Linked DNA regions of Homo sapiens: region 1 is linked to region 2. A link means that fine-mapping ties the variant in region 2 to the plasma level of a protein whose gene starts in the linked region. Region 2 holds a variant in brackets. A gene starts in the other region. All regions are shown on their forward strands.

Region 1 (5,377 bases), not on the chromosome of region 2:
GTCAGAGTCCAGCCAAAAAGTTAAAACCATACCAAGTGACCACACAGAAAGAATTCAACATGTAGGGTAATTTACAAAGTGCTAGAAATGCAGTTAAAGCAACCAAGCAGAAGATGAATCAACTCTGAGATTAGAAAATGCAGAAAGTTGTTACTCCTTCTAGGTCAGGAAGGACAGTGATGAGAAGGTGGGGTCTAGGAGCTGGGGCCATGCAGTAAAAGCTGGAACAATGTTGGCCTGTGTGGCACAGGGGGAACCACAGATAAAGGACCTTTCCAAAAGGAGATGAGCCTTGGAGAGGGTGCAGCCACTACCCATGATAGCTCCTGAATTGGAGAGAGGGAGACATATCCCTTCTCCTTTTCTCTCTCTCTCCACTCTTTCACCTGTGCCTTCCCCTGGCTTAACTTAATCAGATGCAGTTGGCAAGGAAGCCTGGAAGCAAGGAAGCCTGGAAACCACATTTTAAAAAGTCAACTTTCTATAATACAGAGCCAGGAATGAAAGTGAAGAGAAAGGATTTAAAAGCAAGCAAACAAATTTGAGGGCAGCACTGGTTTAGTATTCCAAAAGAGACCATAATAAAAAACTAAAGGGCGTCATTGTGGCAGGCTGGATCTCCACAAGCAACCAAGTCTCCATAAGCCCTTTGCTGTAATGATGAATGTGTAAGTTAAACATTGAAGAACTAGAGAAACTGGTGCCTGAGTAGGAGACCTGGAATGCAGAAACAAACCCGTTAAGACCCTACCTGGGCTTTCTCATCCTCAAACCTGATTGAGTGATAAAAGCATTCATGCACATACAAACCATACCAGGACCCATGTAAAATTAAGAAACTTTCCAGCCCACAGACCACTAGTTAAAGATTAGATTTAGGCTAAGTAGAAATACTCCTGCATATAGGCATAGAGCTTGAAATTCATTTATATATACTAAAGGAAAAACTCATAACTTTTAGTTGGTCTGGTAAATTACTCCGACCTTCTCCCTGTGGCTGGTTACAAAAATAAACTCGCTTCTTTCCCAGTTCACCTGTATCTCATCATTGGACCACGAGAGCAAGCAGCTGGACCCTGTTCCTCCGGCAACGGCATCAATCTTACCACCAACCTTGGCTCTTTGAGGGGCTTGGTATATTAATATCACTGGCATCAGTGGGAATATGTGGGAGAAATGGAAGCAGTACTGGTAGAGAAAGAAGGAGAAGTGGCAGGATTGAGGTGCATGGCAGGCATTCATGGTGTCTTTCATGTAGTTTATAAAGTAGTTTATAAAGTAGCAGAAAGATAAAGAAATGACAGTTACAACATGGTAACATAAAAATTAGTAAAATGTGACATAAATTAGATATTAATTTTGGTTTGGCATAGCAGAATGCTCTGTCTGCATAATTTTATTAGATCTTCATTACAATACCACACCCTCAGATGAGGACAAATAAAGCCCCAACCTCTGGCCTTACATCTTAAGGTGTGTTTTCTCAAAATTTTCTGGGTTCCACTTTGGTGGTGGGAATGGCTGGAGCCAGCAGTACCACGTGGCCGGGGAGCCCTGAGCTGGTCCTGTGCCCATATGGACTCCGCTTTCTATTTCACCCCTTCATGGTTCTTTCTTACCCTCTTCCTTGCATGTCGGGCCCACTCGATGCCCCAAAGAACTCCAGGACTTCTGCTCACAAATGAAGTTGTCCTGAGGTCCTGTGGCTGAACCCTGGATCCAGAAAGACAGCCTTGGAAACAAATTACTACTCCTGTAGCCAGTACCTTACAATTACGTATTTTTGAATGATTTTATCGGATTTGATTGCCAAAGAATCTTGCAAAAACAATTTTTTCCCCAAGCTACACACCTTATGGTTGGTTGTGTTATTTATGTTCCCATTTTAGATGAGAGGACCAATATCCTAGATTAAAAATGTCAAATCCAAGATTACACAAACAGTGAAAATTGAATCCCAGGTTTTTCAAAAGACACTCTGATTTTAGATCTTAAGCCTATTATTCTATCCAAAGGCTCAGAGAAGACATGCTCTGAACATACTCAAAGTAACTGACACTGGAAAAGGTAACAGAGGTGTGAAAATCTTACCATAGTAGATGTGTGAGTGGGCTGGGGGCAGGTGAATTCCAGAGAAATGTGGCACTAAATGTCATGAAGCTGACTCTGTATTATACCAGAGTGGCCTCCAGATTGCTTTCACAACTGGGTAGTTCATCAGCTAATGTGATTCTCCAAACTTTAAATGATTAGAAAACTGGGGAAAAATGTAGAAAACCAGAGGAAAACACTCCTTCTAATCCAAATATAAATTCTTCACTTCTTTTCAATGTTCTTCCAGGAGAAGGATTCGTTGGGCTCTTTGCCTTCTGCTTTTATTTCTGTGCAAGGGTTTATGCAAGAGGTACTTGAGAATGCTGTACTGTAGAGCTTTGTTTCTCATGGGAACACACGGGGAAGTGGAAAACCCTCCAAATTGTTTGGTGAGAAAACATAACATTTATCCCTTTCTTTGGTGGGGTGAGTCAAGTGGTAGGGACTAGAATTCAGGTCCTCAATGGGCATATAAATATGTGTGTGCAAAAGCAGCCATCACACTTTGTATGGCAAGTGGAACCACTGGCTTGGTGGATTTTGCTAGATTTTTCTGATTTTTAAACTCCTGAAAAATATCCCAGATAACTGTCATGAAGCTGGTAACTATCTTCCTGCTGGTGACCATCAGCCTTTGTAGTTACTCTGGTAAGTAACTGGAATACATCTGGAATATGTGACATTTCTTTACTTTTCTGTTAATAAGAGCACAACTAGTAAGCCTTGCCTCACTGACAGTGGAATATGGTGGTAGGAATTGTATTTTTTTTTATTTTACTTTTAACTGACACATAATAATTGCACATATTTGCAGGGTTGGAAGAAGTTTTGGAATCACAGAAAATGGTGATGTTGGAAAGTATTTCAGATCCCCACCATCTAAGCTCTAGCCCAATATAAGTATTCTAATACATCCTACATAGGAAGTTAGCCAACTTCCACGGAGGGTCAACAAAGCACATTTCACTGCTGGATATTGGTCACCATTCGTTTTTCTTATTTTCCTCAATTTTGAGTTAAAATTTGACTTTATAATTTCTTTTGTGCTTTTGAACTATATGGAGTCATTCTTGCTATCATCTCCAGTTATCCAATTTGCTAGCTTGGTTCTCCTGAGATAGCTACATTCATCTGTTTATCCACTCAATGGATATTTATTGAATGGCTACAATTTGTTGGGCACTGGATAGGCATTGGAAGATTTAGACATGAAGCAGTCATAAATATTGTTCTTAAGGTGCTACTCTGGTAGGATAGATAGGGCTTCTGCCTAAGTTACTATAATTCTAGACTACTGTAAACGTACTGTGAGATATCCAGATAGAACTCTTTTAGTGTATTGGTGGGTGATTAGTTTAATTTTCAGGTAAGGGTATAGAAGCTGGCTTCTTGGAGGAGAATGGGAACTGATTTATTTTTTTGGAAGGAATCATTGTAACTATCAGGAAGACAGTGTGGGCACATGGGAAAAAGAGATTTCATGATAGCCACTGCTCATTGAGAGAACAGAAGGCTTTGAAGATCTTCTCCCAGGAAGCTGTAAACACATACAGAGAAGATATTTACCAAAATGTCTGAAATAAGAAGTATGGAGATTAATAATGAAAAATTGATTGCCGCCCACACCTACAATGGCAACTTTGGCTTTTGATGTTTATTGAATTTCTGAAGGAATTTGTAACTTCACCAGTTTTGGATATTTCACTGTTCTCTAATGTCCAGGGACAGGTATCTATGGGCAAAGTGGCAGCAGAAAGGAGGTGGGGAAAATAAATACCGCCCCCTCTGGGTGAGAATTTTGGAGGGACAATAGGTGATTGAAAATTTAAAAAAATATATACAGGCTCCATTTTAATAATTTGAATGGGGAAATAATAGGTTTCCAAAGGAAAATAAACTATGGCAGGTCTTAGCCAGTAGGAGGATGTGTGTTCTTACGTGTGTGCTCACATGCATGTGTGCATTTATATATCTGCACATGTTTTTGTAAAAAATACATCGTACATATTTTCCTCAATCTCTACTTTTTCCCACCATTCATCTTCTACGGGAAAGTTATCTTCCTAAAGCCAAAGATATAAAACGTAATTTTCCTATGTAAAAGCCTTGATAGCGCCCCACTGCCCTCAGGAAAAAAAAATCCAAACTCCTTTGTGTGACATCCAACACTTTAAAAAATCTGACCTCACTCAACTTTTGCAGCCTCACTCCCTTTATCTTCCATCCTTTGGTCATAGCCTATTGGAAATCTGCACTCCAGCCTTCTGGGCAGAAGGCTCACCATCCTGTGTATGCACTTTTATCCTAATGGTTCCGTGCCTTTATTGGTCATGTTTCTAAAATGCTTCTCCTCTTCTTTACCTTATGATCCTGACATTTGCCTCAAGACATAGCTCTAACAGCACTTCTGGAAAATTCCTGCAGCACTCTTTCATGTTAGAATTAGTCATCCCTTTCTTGTGTTTCCATGGAGCTTTGTCCATAATGTTAGCATAGCACATGCTACACTGTGGCATACACAGATCTTCTATCACCAACTGGACTGTGTGAAGTCTCTGAATGGGCATCCTTGTCTTATTTGTCTATGTATCTGCACAGACTAGATAGAGTTGGTGCTCAATTATGTTTGTAGCGTTGAGTTGAATTGGTTGGGAGCAGTTTCTTGGGCTGTGGTTGGGTCCATTCCTGTCTTTATGTGGAGATTCACTATAGCATCTCTCCTTTAGCCTCAAAGCTGTGAGCTGTGGAGACAGTCACATACAAAATACCATCGCCTTCAGACAATCACAATGATCTGTTGAATGCTTACGCTGCCAGGGTCAGTTGTAGGCATGGGTGCATTAGCGAAAAAACACACATTCCTTGTTCTCATGGAGCCTCCATTCTAATGAGAAAATAAAGACAATAAAAACAGCAAATGAAGAGTTGCTTTTTTTAGGTAATGGTAAGAAAAAATAAATGACGGAGAGTGACTATGGCCATTGCAGGCTTCTCCGAGGAGGTAATATTTGAAGAGAGACCAAATAATGTGAGAAAGAAAGGTAAGTAGCTAGCTAAGGAAAAAAAGTTCTAGGGAGATGGAACAGCAGGTGCAAAGGGCCAGAGGTAGAAGTTTTCAATGGAAGTAAGATGAGTGGATCTGGAATGGAGCTATTGATGGACACAGGGAAAGAAGATGAGGTCATAGTCTGGGCCCAGATGTGCCTGTCTCACCTGGTTTCTCTTTTTCCTGCAGCTACTGCCTTCCTCATCAACAAAGTGCCCCTTCCTGTTGACAAGTTGG
Region 2 (5,377 bases):
AGAGTTTATTTATTTTAGACTAGGCAATAATATACCAAAAAGATATTAAAAGGTGTTAAAAGCATTTAGAGAAAAAAAGTGAGATTTTTCCAAATGCATTTTATTTGGGTTGTAATGATCTTTAGGTAATAACAATGACAGAATTATTGATTTGAAAGGGAGAAAACAATTATTTCCATTAATTAAATGTCTTGTGCCTGGAGAATCTGAACTTCCAAGTCTATAATATTTATCTTTCAGATTATTGATCTGGCACTGATTTTAGTTCTAGAAGTCAGGGGGTGTGGAACCCGTTTCAAGTCCCACCACACAATAAGATTAAGAAAAATCCCTTCTCATCTCCTAACTAGCTCTGGAAGCAAAGAAGAAAATCTTTGCTGATGCTCCTAGTGAAAAATCTGTATAGATTGTGTATGATTTAAGGTTAACATTTAAAGGGGAAGAAAGGAATGGAGAGAGAAAGGAAGGAACGAAAAGGGAAATGAAGGAAAGAAAAAAGGAAAACAAAAAGGAGGAAGAGGAGAAAAGGAAAGACGAAACATAAAAAATTCAACCGGAAATAAGGGGTTTATTTCTGAAGTTCCTTCTGAAGCACCTTCTTTGTGTTCTTTTCCTTTGACTTATCTTTAAAAATTAAATTAAAAATCTGCAGAATTGTTTATTCTGCAGTTCATGAAGCTTCTCCTTGGTTTTGATTGAATCGACGTCCAACAAGGTTGTCCGGAGCCCTGTACTCAAACAGCGTCCATCCCTGTTCGCGCAGAGCTGCACACAGCAGTCCTGGATTTAAAGACAATCACCCTTTGCAGATTCACTCTCACCAGGCTTAATAACTTCCACCCCAAATTGCCCCATCCCTCCTCGGTCCCTCCTGGCATTTCTTTTCTGTCCCAGGCGCAGAGATCCTCTTCTGGGCGTCTGTTCCGGCTATGAGAAGCTCTCCGCACCCTGAAAGGGAGTAGAAAAACAGAGGGGATGGGAAAGGGGGAACAGGGGAACAGATGAGTATTCATTTCATGATAAAATTCAGAATCCCTGCGCCTTAAATGGTGCCCATTTTCTAAGTCTGGTTAATATTGTTCTTGTTGCTGATGATGTTTTCCTTTTTAAAAACTATATGAATCATCTTATTAAGAAAAATTATACAAAAAAAAGAAGAAACTCCACATGCACTAAAATATTTTTCACTATCTCTTTGAAGACATTCTGCTTAAACCTTTTCAAAGATTCGGGTGGCCCTTTCTTGACTCTCCATGATTAAAACCACTTACAAGTCATACACAACAGATGCAAATATAAAATGTCCTTGGCCTCTGCAAAAAAGGCTCAAAATTAACCTTGTCTGAACGTGTGCGTACGTTGCTTCCAACATCTGAAAAAAACTTGATAAAATGGAGACTCCAGCCAAGAGGAATGGTGCATGGAATCCGTTGAAAATGCATACAAACAACACCTAAAATAACAAGCAGCACAAACTGAGGTGTATTTAAGTTTCCAAAGGTTTTAGGTAAAATGACCAGAAAATATTAGAAATGGTCATCAACGGTGGCTAGCTTTTTTGTTCTATGGTGACAGAGATAAAGTTAAAAAAAAAAAAGTTGTGTAGCCATCAACACAGAGATAGTCCTTAAAATCCCCCATATCCAGCCTTTCAAAATACTCTCTTCCGGAACATACATGAATAGGAGGGAGCTTTTGTGTTTAAAAATCTTGGTAAGTGTCCCCCTTTAAAATCTACATAGAAAATAGGGGACTGATGGCCCCTGGTTTCTCATTATGAATTGCAAAGACTTCAGTTAGTGGCTACAATGATGTGTCATTTTCGATATAGAAGTTATAAAATGTATATATTATATTAATCACCCTGAACAACTCTTTGTTAAATGCACATTTGGAGTCTGCAGACTGTGTGACCCAGAGGTGCTTATATAACTATATGTGGGTGTCTGGGTGTAAATACGGGTTTATGATTTTTATAGTATATATGTCTGTGGGTTGCATCTAACTCCTGTGTGTGCAATAATGTTTTTTCTCTTTGCTGAGGCTTACTTGTCCAGCCTATTGTTTGAGACAACAGATATAAGTTGCGATGGGAGAGGAGCGTCGGATTTGGTGTGTATCCCCCATTTCCAATTATAGATGGATCATTACAGACAGCGGAGTCCTGAGAAGCCAGACATCTGCTCCTCACATGAATGCACTCACCTCCTAGAGACCAGGCTGCCATCATGCTCTGGAAGCTTGTGGAGAATGTCAAGTACGAAGATATCTATGAGGTGAGTCGACACCCCCAGATGCACCTTAGAGCTTTGCAGATAGAGAATTTGAGCTTCTTGATACCCCAAATGATATATATTTTTAAGCTATTTACTCGTAGATTTCCGGTCGGTTTTCTCAGCTTTTTTTAACTTTTAGAAAAGCTGGCTAGGGAAGACTTCGCTGCTCTGAAAAGGGACTTTAAGGCTGAAATCTGACAACTTTAATTTAGGAATGTTTTTATTTATTTTATTTTTCTTTCCCTTTTCCTCGCCTCCCCCCACCCCACCCCACCCTTTTAAGCTCTGATGGGGAATGTGGTGCTACTGAATGTGGGCACGCTCTCAGAGAAAATCGAGATTCTGATAAAGTCAGGGGCTTTTCTCGTTTTAAGTGTGGAAGAGAATTGGGTTTTCAAGCCTCATTTGTAACAGACTCGGGCTTTTAATTTTTATTTTCAATAAAATTTCTGAAATTGATAACAAATGGTTCCAAGTAGAGGACAGAGAATTAGCGGGAAAGAAGTAGATGGCTGGAGATATGGATGGATAGAGCAAAATAGAAGTCGTAGCAGTTTATTAGTTTCTGTTTTCTTGTGTTTTGCTTCCTTGAGGGTCACTGCGTCCGAACAGAAATCGCAGCCGCCTCCTGTGTGGGCATCTTTCACGGAAATTTCTGCCCACGTTCAATGCGTACGGGTCTCTAGCACTGAGGCTAGCTCAACTCTTCGGGGCAGGAGAAGTTGCGCCCAGCCAGGAGGACGCCAGCCGCCTCCGGGGCCCGGACCGCGCTC[G/T]CCAAAGCCCTTTTCCGGCTCGGGCGAGGGCTGACGCGGCCAGACGGCTCCGCTACTCGCGGGCGAGGCGGACTAGGCGGACGAGGCGGCCGAGGCGGGCGAGGTGGGAGAGGCGGGCGAGGTGGGAGAGGCGGCCGAGGCGGGCGAGGCGCGGGGCGCGCGGCGGGCCAGGCTGGGGACCGGGAAGCCCGCGGAGCCTCGCTTTTAAGCGGAATGGTCTGGGACAGCCCCAGGTGGTTGCCAGGGGAAGGGAGGAAGGGAAGGTTCTGCTGAGACGTCGAGGTTGGAAATAAAAACTTCGGAAAGGCGAAGCGGATTTAGAAAAGGAGGGAAGTCGAGGCGGGCGAAGCGGGCCATGGAGATTGCTAAGAGGAAAAGTTGGAGAGAAAAGGAAGGAAGAGAAGCAGACTCCCGGGTGGCGGGCGCGGGCCGCTAGGTCAGACGAAAGGTGGAGGGATGCAGAGGCTCCCCAAAGAGCCGAGAAAGACACGCGACCCCTCCGGATCGGGACAGCTCCTGAAAGCCCGGCGCAGAGCCGCCTCGAAGATCCTAAGAGTGGGCGACTCACAGGCGCGGCCGGCAAGCTCCTGGGGGACTCGGGCTCGGACGAGCGCCCACAGGCAGCGCCTGGCGCCCACACCTCCTGCCCCCCCCCGAATCCTAATGTTGGGGTGTGTGTATGTGTGGAGGTATGTAGGAGAGAGGAGGAGGAGATAAGAGAGGAGAGGGAGAAAAGCAGGAGAGAGCGCGAGAGAGCAGAGAGGAGAGAGATTGGTCTTGTTGCTGAATGATGCTTGGGGTTTTCCTTTTCTCTTTGTGGTTGTGTATCGACTGTAACGAAGAGCCGCGCCTACGCGCCTGGTGGGGATTGTTTCGGTTCGGCCTCCTTTTCTTTCCTTAACAGGCGGGATAATGGTAAAGTCCAAGGCGCTAGAACTGTCCTAAAGAATATTAGCGCCCAAAGTGGGCATGACATTAGCAAGCACGGGGCCATGGTGAAAACAGCTCAAGCTATATGCATGCAGAGGCATTTCAGTGGGTTCTAAAAAGTAACCAGGGTAACATTCGTTCTTTACAGAAAGTAAAGTAGCTAAATGGAAAAGGAAGGAGGGAGAGAAGAAAGGAGGGAGGGAGAGAGGAAGAGGGAGGGGTGGAGTGGAAGGGAGGGAAGAGAGAAGAGAAAAGAGGGGAGGGAGAGAGAGAAAGAGAAATAAACAGGGAGAGAGAGGGAATATTACAGGTGGTCCTATCTGCCTAAATTTTCTGCTCAAAAAACAGAATCCGCAGCTCGGTGGAAGGAGCCTATTTAAGTCTGGACTAAGGTTGAACTTTAACAGAAATGGCAGTCAGGCCAGTTGAACGGGTTCCTGAAACATCCAAAAAGGTTTTCTGTTGCCCCTGGCTTTGCCTGGAAAGGATAAGTTTAGTGTATTTGAAGATTGATGGCGTATGTTTTAAATTGAGGTAAAAATCGCAAACTATGTGAGCACTAAACAGGAAAAGGCTGCACAGGAATGAAAAGCCTCCATCTCGCTTCTGTCCTTTAACAAATGAGCATAATCTTCCACATTTAGCAAAAGTCTGCAAAAGTCACTGTAAATAACCAGGCCCACCAATTTGCCTTTCTCTCGCCTCCAAATGATGAAGCAACCCTTTTTATTTTGTTTTTGTAATCCTCACACAAAGCACCCAAGGCGACCAAGTCCTCCGGATTAGGGAAGTCTCTCTCCAGGTAGGAGGACACCTCCATTCTATACAACCTCCCAGCACTGTTCTCCCTCACTGCCTTATCCAAAGGAGCAGGGGCTGCTTTACTCGTGTCCCCGGCACAGTTAATTGAAGTTCTGCCTCTTTCCTGCTAAACTTTTTCCCCAGTCTGCCTTTGCCAGCCCCCTCGTCTGATTACATCTAGTAATTCTCCACTGAATGAACGTCATTTACAATAGTAGGGGAGCTCTGCGCTCGCTGCTGCTTCACGCTCCATTTGTCCTCTATTCTCCCTTTAAAGTACTCGTGTAATATTAATAGTCATGAATATCAATTATTATGAGGCGGTGTAGGCAAGCGGAGGGAGGAAGGGGCGGCCGAGCAGTCTGAGCCCAGCTTCGGGTGAAAGAGGACTGCATCTGGAGCCCCGAAGAACGGCAGAAGAAAAGAGGCCAAAAAGACAGCAAAGAGACAGATGAATAGTTCTGTCTGTGTGTGACAGGCATCGCCAATCTTGTTGGGGTGGGGGGCGGGTGTAATTTTTTTTTTTTTTTTTTGATGGCTTGTCCTGGAAACACATCAAGCTCAGCTCCTGTGTCCAGCTCGCTTCTCTGCTGGACT

Which allele goes with the higher level. Alleles are on the strand shown, and positions count from the first base shown. The strength of an association depends on the size of the effect and on how common the allele is.
With allele T in place of G in region 2, the plasma level of the protein whose gene starts at base 2,595 in region 1 is lower (weak association).

What was found. PIP is the chance, under the fine-mapping model, that this variant and not a neighbour inherited with it causes the effect. Protein levels are from antibody-based Olink assays in UK Biobank. Linkage for the fine-mapping came from a reference panel and not from the study's own genotypes, which makes the PIPs less certain.
Region 1: SCGB3A2 starts here. The variant in region 2 is fine-mapped to the plasma level of the SCGB3A2 protein (UK Biobank, PIP 0.90).

What each region holds. Positions count from the first base shown.
Region 1 is chr5:147,876,117-147,881,493 of GRCh38, forward strand. It overlaps SCGB3A2 (secretoglobin family 3A member 2), which reads left to right and starts at 2,595. Exons shown (of 3, transcript NM_054023.5): 1 at 2,595-2,742; 2 at 5,330-5,377. The coding sequence starts at 2,688.
Region 2 is chr6:50,816,697-50,822,073 of GRCh38, forward strand. TFAP2B (transcription factor AP-2 beta) reads left to right here and starts at 2,175. Exons shown (of 7, transcript NM_003221.4): 1 at 2,175-2,276. The coding sequence starts at 2,196. LOC124901490 (a long non-coding RNA gene) reads right to left here and starts at 2,330. Exons shown (of 2, transcript XR_007059923.1): 1 at 2,206-2,330; 2 at 549-948. The variant G/T (reference allele first, on the strand shown) is at 3,050.